Regions from separate parts of the Homo sapiens genome. Here regions 2 and 3 are each linked to region 1. Evidence: fine-mapped expression QTL. A gene starts in region 1. Each other region holds a variant in brackets. All regions are shown on one strand. Distances are between the middles of the regions.

The links.
Region 2: its variant is fine-mapped to the expression of NIPA2 in whole blood (INTERVAL, PIP above 0.99). The same link has a PIP of 0.9 or more in breast, esophagus mucosa, fibroblasts, subcutaneous fat, sun-exposed skin and thyroid.
Region 3: its variant is fine-mapped to the expression of NIPA2 in whole blood (GTEx, PIP 0.96).

The regions. Positions count from the first base shown.
Region 1 is chr15:22,837,489-22,840,334 of GRCh38, reverse strand. It overlaps NIPA2 (NIPA magnesium transporter 2), which reads right to left and starts at 1,669. Exons shown (of 8, transcript NM_030922.7): 1 at 1,414-1,669; 2 at 545-680. RefSeq lists an enhancer at 1,543-1,772.
Region 2 is chr15:22,865,509-22,868,008 of GRCh38, reverse strand. NIPA2 (NIPA magnesium transporter 2) reads right to left here. Exons shown (of 8, transcript NM_030922.7): 8 at 1-1,796. The coding sequence ends at 1,162. CYFIP1 (cytoplasmic FMR1 interacting protein 1) reads left to right here. Exons shown (of 31, transcript NM_014608.6): 31 at 1-957. Among named protein-coding and RNA genes, the nearest start is that of NIPA2, 28 kb to the right of the region's middle. The variant TCTTA/A (reference allele first, on the strand shown) is at 1,160.
Region 3 is chr15:22,978,455-22,981,300 of GRCh38, reverse strand. CYFIP1 (cytoplasmic FMR1 interacting protein 1) reads left to right here and starts at 933. Exons shown (of 31, transcript NM_014608.6): 1 at 933-1,014. RefSeq lists enhancers at 668-1,636, 1,637-2,604. The variant G/A (reference allele first, on the strand shown) is at 1,235.

The sequences.
Region 1 (2,846 bases):
CAGAGCAAGATTCCATCTCAAAAAAAAAAAAACAAAAAAAAAAACTATATATAGAGCTCTTAGTTTTCTACGAAATCTTTACTACCTGGTTTCCACTGCTATCTAAGTTAGCTTAGGCCCGGCTCGGTGGCTCACACCTGTAATCCCCGCACTTTGGAGGCCAAGGTGGTTGGATCGCTTAAGTCCAGAATTAGGAGACCAGCCGGTGTAACATGGTGAAACCCCGGTTCTAAAAAAAATACAAAAATTAGCCAGGCATGGTGCCGCACGTCTGTGGTCCCAGCTGCTGGGGAGGCTGAGGTGGGAGGAGCACTTGAGCCCGGGAGGCGGAAGTTGCAGTGAGCCCAGATTGCACCGTCTAGCCTGGGGACAGAGCAAGACCTTGGCTCAGAAAAATTAAATACATGTTAGATTTAATTTTTTCCAACCTCTCACTTGGCTAATAATTTTTCAAAGCAGTACTGTACTTATAAATATTACAGAACCTAAATCTCCAACCCTAACTATGCAACAATATTAGTTATAAATTACAATTTTAACTTACATGTAAGTTTAATATGGTCTCTCTTATGAAAAAAAGGCTGGGAGAGGTTAGAGATGACTTATTCACTCTCATTTCCTCGTAAATACCACCCTTTATTCTCATTTAAAGTCTTAAACCCTGGCCGAGTAGCTCCAGCCTAGAAAGAAGAAAACACAGAAGTAGGCAAAAGACTTAAAGTTACTAAGTACGTTTTATAATTTGGTTACTAGCCTTCATACTCATTTTGCCAACCAATCAACATAAAACCTACTCAATCGAGCACAACTACTGCTTCGACAGGCAGCTTACTGGAATGGAAACTCTCGACTCTGATATTTCCTCTTACTAAAAAAAGTATTAACCGGGCACATGGCTATACACAGGATTTCTAGAAACAGAACTTAACATGCAGTCCTGTATTAAATGAACTAACAACCTAGAAAAGAAATTAAGGAGGCACAAACACCAAACTAAACACACAGTTTTGAGCAATTGTATAGAGAGGGAAATAGGATTCCGTGATTTTATAAAAGGAAATTAAAACAGTCAGGCTCAAAACGTCACAGCAGACTTCTAAGGCTTGTTTAACTGTCAGTTATGATCCCCGCAGCAGCTGAAGCCACCTTCTAAAACTCACCAAGACAAATGAAATTATTTTAATGAACTTAATGAACATGCGTCCCCGACATGGCCAACGAGCCAGGCTTCCGTGGGACTGAACGGCAATCCGATTCACGGTGGGTTTCCTCACTGAGGATTACAGGAAAACCGCTTCAGAACACCCGGAAAGGAAAGTTGCCCGAAGAACCCTTCTCCGACACAAGGCGGGCTGGCTCGCCACCAAGTCAGCCCCTTCGCGCTTGCCTGAAAGGAAGGAGTGGCGACCTCACCCTAGTCGGCCGGCCGGCCGCGCGGCTTCCCCTCGCCGGCGCAGCCTTGGGCACCGCGGCTCACACCCCCACACAGGCCGCCCAGTCCTGCGCTCGCACGGCCACCGCCTTCGTCGCCGTCCAGTGGGAGATGCGAGCATTCGGGGCTGAAGCCGTTCGCACCGCCTCCTCCATGGAGAAGCGCCGAGGAAAACCTGCCAAGGACAACCTCCGGCACCGCCGTCACCACCGCTGCCGGGACCTAGGGCCGGCGCCGGAAAACCTAGGCGCGGCTAAATGACGCAAGAGGCCTCGCGCGCACGCGCAGTGCCGCACCACGTACACCCCGCCCCCGGGGCTCTCTCCCGCCGGGTTCCGGTTCCTTTACAAGGCCCCAGTCGGCTGAGCGCGGAGGGCGGGGCGCGTAGAGTGTGGGGACGGGGGCGGGGCGCAGGATCCAGGCGGGACCTGGCGAGGGACGAAGCTGGAAGCGTAGTTAAGCAGTACAGTATGCTGCCAGGTGGCGTTGGCCGATCAGTTCAAAATCAAACTCCGGCGTGGCCCTTATTTAAAACGAGGATTCCGGGCCCGGCGCTGTGGCTCACGCCTGTAATCCCAGCACTTTGGGAGACCAAGGCGGGCGGATCCCGAGGTCAGCAGATCGAGACCATCCTGGCTAACACGGTGAAACCCCGCCCCTACTAAAAATACAAAAAATTAGCCGGGCGTGGTGGCGGGTGCTTGTAGTCCCAGCTACTCGGGACACTGAGGCAGGAGAAGGGCGCGAACCCGGGAGGCGGAGCTTGCAGTGATCGGAGATCCCGCCACTGCACTCCAGCCTGGGCGACAGAGCGAGACTCCGTCTCAAAAAAAAATAGAATAAATGAGGGTTCCGGCCGGGCGCGGTGGCTCACACCTGTAATCACAGCACTTTGGGAGGCCGAGGCGGGCAGATCACGAGGTCAGGAGTTCGAGACCAACGTGACCAACATGGGGAAACCGCATCTCTACTAAAAATACAAAAATTAGCTGGACGTGTTGGTGCGCGCCAGTAATCTCAGCTACTCCAGAGGCTGAGGCAGGGGAATCGCTTGAACTCGGGAGGCGGAGGTTGCAGTGAGCCGAGATCAGCCACTGCACTCCACCTGGGCGACAGAGCGAGACTCCTTCTCAAAAATAAATAAATAAATAAAATAAAATGAGGGTTCCCAGGGGCAGTCACAGTGTGAAGCTGCATTTAATTGGTGTCCCCGGGCGATGCCAAAGGGGAACAGAGCTCCCAAGAGGGCAAGAAGCGGGGGAAAGGGTGGGTCCAAAGCTGGGGGCGGGACGGGGCGGGGCCGAAATAGCTGTGGTAGTTCGACGACCGCTGGGCCCTTCCTTACTGACCCGGTCGCGGAATAGATGTGAGGTTGACGTTTGGTGAAAGCCCGCCTCGAGACACTGAGAGCAGA
Region 2 (2,500 bases), 28 kb before region 1:
ACCTAGGTGGAAATTAATTCTGCCAATACTTTTTTTTAAAGGCCAGTCAATGGTTATGAGTGGATAGGTTCAAAGCTGAATGGAGTTCATTAGACCTTTTTTATTATTCTACCTTTTCTGCATATGTTTGCAGTTTTCCATCGACTTCTTCATAAACAAACATTTTCTAGAAACCAAAATATGTAGTGGCCCAAAGGAGCTCTTAAGCAAAGTACTTGGTACAAAGAGACCATATTCTATAAACATGTTAAGTTTGTTCTAAGCATTCAGACTTTTAGAATAAGAACTTCATTTCAACTTTTTATTATAACATGAGCTAAATTTAAGAAACAACCCTAGTCTTCTATTTCCCAGAGCTGTTCAAAGTCTAAATGACAATATAACTCATTATGAAAATATACTGAAAAGTACAAGAGCTGATGTAAAACGGTAATCAAGGTTCCAGGCATCATGGGATTAGGGTAACTGAAGAATAAACCCAGCCAGGCTGCAACAGCAGGCAGGATGTGCTGGCTTGATGAGGTGCTAAGGCCATCGAATGCTCAGAGGAAGCCGGATTCACGGTGATCATCTCAACCTGAGAAATCGTTCCTTGGGGTGATTTCTGCCCTTTTTTTTGTTTTGTAAGAAAGAGGTTCCTTCATTCAGTAACTTAGTTTTCCCTTAATAAATATTTCAAAAATAAAACCAATCATCATCAAACAAACAGGAGCCACTTTTGTAGGTAAGGTAAATCACAGGATAATGTATTGGGATAACTCTGTTTTTTTAAAATAAAAAAGCCTTACATGGTCAGGGATTGATGGAGTGGGGATGACAAATGCACATTTCAGACTTTCATCACCAATGAAAAAATAAAGCATTTTCATAGACTTAAAACTGTCATTAGTGCATTCGGCTTTTGGAGAAGGGATGAAAATGTAAAATACTTCTACAACAATAAAATGTTAATAGAAATCGTCATGTGCTGAGGTCATTTTAGTGAGCTACCATTGTTTGTTTAAATACAAGAAAAGTAATTTCTTGGTCCAAATTAGTGAAATCTTTAAAAAGATTGCCTTTAAAGAACATTATTTGAGGACAATGTTTTTTCAGACACATTCTGATGATATTCAAATTCACTTCATAACAATCACAGATTAACCTTTAATTACACCTT[TCTTA/A]AAAAGCTGTCAGATTTCCATTTCTTCGGGAGACATTTTCACCAGTGTGTTGTTCGATTCCACAGGTTAAGCTTTCTTCATTATTATTAAGAACTTCATACATATTAGAGAGATTGCCATTCATTGCTTTCTCGTCTTTTCGAAAAGACACAGGCAGACTTGCTAGACTAAAGCTGACGTCTTTAAAGGCATGCAACAAGAATATCCCCACAATGATTGTAAAGAAGCCACTCAAAGTACCAATGACATCGTCAACAGGCATATCTTGCCACTCCTTAAAAAGAATAGCTGAACAAGTTAAAACTGATGTTGTAAAGAATACATAATATATTGGAGTCACAATGGAAGTGTTGAATATATCCAGGGCCCTATTTAGGTAATTAATCTGTGTGCTCACACAGACGATGAGGCTCAGCAGCAGAATCCAAGCCAGGGGATGCCGCAGCACAGGCTTCCCTGCAAACAGCTCCTTGATAGCAATGCCCAGGCCCTTCACACAGGAGACTGAAAACGCGCCGATTACAGAGCAGATTGTTATGTACACAAGAATGTTTGTCTGTCCATGGCGAGGACCCACCACGAAGATTAATATCAAGGCCACAATGACCACAAGGGTTGCAAAGACCACAAAACCTGGAGGAGGCAAAGAAAAGTTACATGAGTCAAATGGTTGGTTGTTCTTAAACACAGAATGCAAAACAAAATATAATAAACTTGATAGGGAGAAAAGGTATGGCCTGGAAATAAAAATCAGCTTTATTTTGCAGCCCAAGCAGAAATGCAACCACAAAAATTTACTTAGATGGACACACTGGAAGATTAATGCGAGCTTCATATTCACAAATTGTTATACCCCTAACATTTTTGCAGCAGCACTTTATGCCGACTTAAGTGCTCTAGCTCACCAGGCAAGAGGGACAGTGGGAACAGAACAGACACAGAAACTAGGGAGGAGAAACCATGAGGTGGCCTTGAATGTTCAACAATTTATAGATGCTAAAAAAAACAAAAAACACAAAAACAAGAGTTCTTCATCAAGTTTTCCCTAAAAGGGGAAACTTTTAAAATTTGTGGACAACTGCTGGAGTAACGAGCAAGTCAACTGGAGAACTTGAAAGATACTACTGGGGTTCTGGTTGAATACGGAGAATTAAATCCAGCATGATAATAGCCAACAACTGTGTAGCACTGTGGGCCAGGCATTTTTCTCAGCAATTCGCACTCAACTACCCTGTTATCACGGATACTACCACCTGCATTTTCGGATGAGGAAACTGAGGCCCAGATAAGTCACATGAATTTACTCTTCCTTCCTCAAATTCCACTAATAAAATACA
Region 3 (2,846 bases), 140 kb before region 1:
ATGTGAGAAAGTGATATCCGAATATTGAGTCAACTGGTAGATTGTCTCAATCCGCTGGTCAGGATTCATTTGCTGCTTTTTGCCTTACCGCAGAGCACAAGCGGGGGTAACCAAACCTTCATAATCTAGAGACCAGACTAGAATATCTGATGCCCATCCTTACTGTTCTCCGTAAGAACCAGGGGTCGCGGATGAATGGGGAGTGAGGTTGCTGCGGCTGAGCGGGGCGTTTAGGGCAGTTTTCCTAAACACGCCTGTGACCAGCTGACTCCACTCAGCGTTTCCGTGTGAGGTATGTTTCTTCACCGGCCTTTCAAGATTGTTTTTTGGCACGAGCTCAAATCAGGTTTTCTTCCGTCCGCCGTTCCCGCAGGTCTGCGCACGGATTTGTCCCTGGTTCCCGCAGGCAATGGGGCCGCAGGGGCCGGCCGGGGGGGTCCCCAGCGGGCTCTGCGCGCCGACCTGCAGCTGGGACCCGCGCCTGGAACCCTCCCGACGAGCGCAGGTGAGCGCCTCCTGCCAAGTGGGGCGGCGCCACACGGGCGTCCTGGGTGTCCCCCTGAGCTCCTTCCGCAGCTCAGGCCAACCCCCGCCCTGACCCGGTGGAGCCCCGGGACAGGGTGCGGACCCCGTTCCTTCGCGCTCCGAACCGGACGGACCCGCAGGAGGACCCCACGCCCGCTCCGCTCCGACCCCGCCGTCCCGCGCAGGCTGCGGTGACCCAGGCCGGCAGGTAGCCAGGGGCTCTCTGCCTGGGAGGACACCTTCGGCGGCTGGCGTGGGGAAAGGGGCCGCCCGGCCGGGGATGCCCCGCCAGGAGGAGGGAGCGGCCGGGGCCGCGGCCGGGAGGGAGGAGCGCCGGGAGGAAGAGGCCGAGCCGGGAGAGCCCCCGCCCCGGGAGGAAGGGGAGGAGGCCGAGTGTTTCCTGGCGCATTCCCGGCCAGCCCGAGTGACTCACTCGGCCAAGGAAACTCCCAGGGCCCGCCCAGGACCCCCAAGCCGCCGCGGACGCAGGTGAGGAACCCCGCTCGCCCGCGCCTGCCCTGCGGCCTCCGCGGGGTCCGGGTCCCCCTCGGAACCTGGGCCGGCCAGGGCGGCGGCGGGGCCGGGACGGACCCCCCCCTCCCCCCCAACCCCGGCGGCGCGGCCTCCCCGGCGGCGCGGCCTCCGGGATCGTCCTGGTCCCCGCGTCCCCCAGGTCCCGGCCCCGGGCTCCCGCGCCTCCCGGGCTCCA[G/A]GTCCCCGCACTCCCTGCACTGGCTTCCCGGTCCCTGCGCCCCCGGCCTTTCGGCCTCGGCCCCGAGCTCCCCGCCCCCGCGTTCACCGCCTCGCGCCCCCGGATCCCGGATTCCGCGCCCCGGCACATGGCACAGCTCCAGTGGCGAAGGAATACCTTAGTGTTTGACGTTTTTGTTGGAAAGTAAGGAGCAGGCAGATTGTTAATGTTGCACTAAGGTCGCGCAGCAAGATCTGAACCCGTTTTTGTTTCGTGCCCCTGTGAGGAGCGGAGGGAGCCTGGTCCGCGGAGCCATTCCGGGCATTCTTGGAGAGAGGAGTTTTGGGCTTTGTTAAGGAGGCGCGATCGTTACGGAGGCAGCACTGTTTCGCACAAGCATCTGAATTGTGTATTTTAAGGCTGAAATGCGTGAGCTTAATTTGCAGCACATTGTGGGTGTGACAAGAAGGGTGCAAGAATAATCGGGAAACGGGGTTGATGGAACGTGTTTTAAGCTGAGAGGGGCGTCTGGACGGTGTCAGCTCCGCTATTAAGTCCAGTCAGGGAGCGGCTGCTGATTGAGCCCAGCGCCGCGTGGTCGCCGCTGGGGACTGAGGCTCGGGAGCGTTTGTTTTCTGGCGGCGGAGGGCACCGTGGCTGCGCCGGGAGCGGTGGTGTTTCTTGCAGTCGTCCGTCGGACTCCGGAATGAGGCGTGGTCGGAGCCGCGGTGATGCCTGGTGCAGTGCGCACATTGCTATGCTTGACAGCTTGGCGGCAGAGTCCCGGCCAGGCCGGGACCCGCGGGGGCCCCACGCATGCTGCCTTTTCCCTGCGGGTGGCCAGCGGTTTTCCAAGTGATGTCTAGATCTGCAGGCACGGAGCCTGGAAGAACGAGTCACGCTGTGAGTGGGCGCGGGCCGTAGCAGGTGTGCACTCGTAGGGCCAGTAGGGATATAGTGCCGGTGCCCTCACTGCGACCGAGGCGCCCTGGAGTCGTGGCGGAGGACGTTTCCTGCGTTAAGACAGGTGTCTGTGCTGCGCTCAAAGAAAATGTACCCCCTAAGTTTGTGTGTGTGTTTAAATTTATTTTAAACTTTTAGTAAGATTCACTTTTTGGTGTTCAGTTCAGTGAGCTGTAGCAGGTGCATGGACTGTAGTGACTTCCACCGCAGTCAGGATACTCAGGAAGGCAGCCTCTCTCCTCCCCGCTCTTGCAGCCGCCTGTCTGTTCCTCAGTCCTCCTGCTTTGCCCATTCCAGAATGTCACATGTGGGCTTGGAGTCTGGCTTGTTTCGCTTAGCATAAGGCGTTGGAGATTCAGCTATGCTCTGGTTTGTCCCTGAAGAGTAAAGATACAAGGGTCTGAAAAGTGTGGCTCTCGGATACAGCCTGAGAGAGAGACTAAAATGATAAAGTGATGAGAAAAATTACAAAACTATAGTTCATTAAAAACATTAAACAGCATAGAACCGTGTATACTAAAAGTGAAATTCCCTCGGTACTTCTAAGTAGTATAATAGTCTTTTCTGTGCATAAGTAATTTTTTAAATAACATAGTGAGATCATATTGCATATATTATCGTCATACATTTTTCACTTAATGATGTTTGGTTACTTAAAGATCTTAGCAAT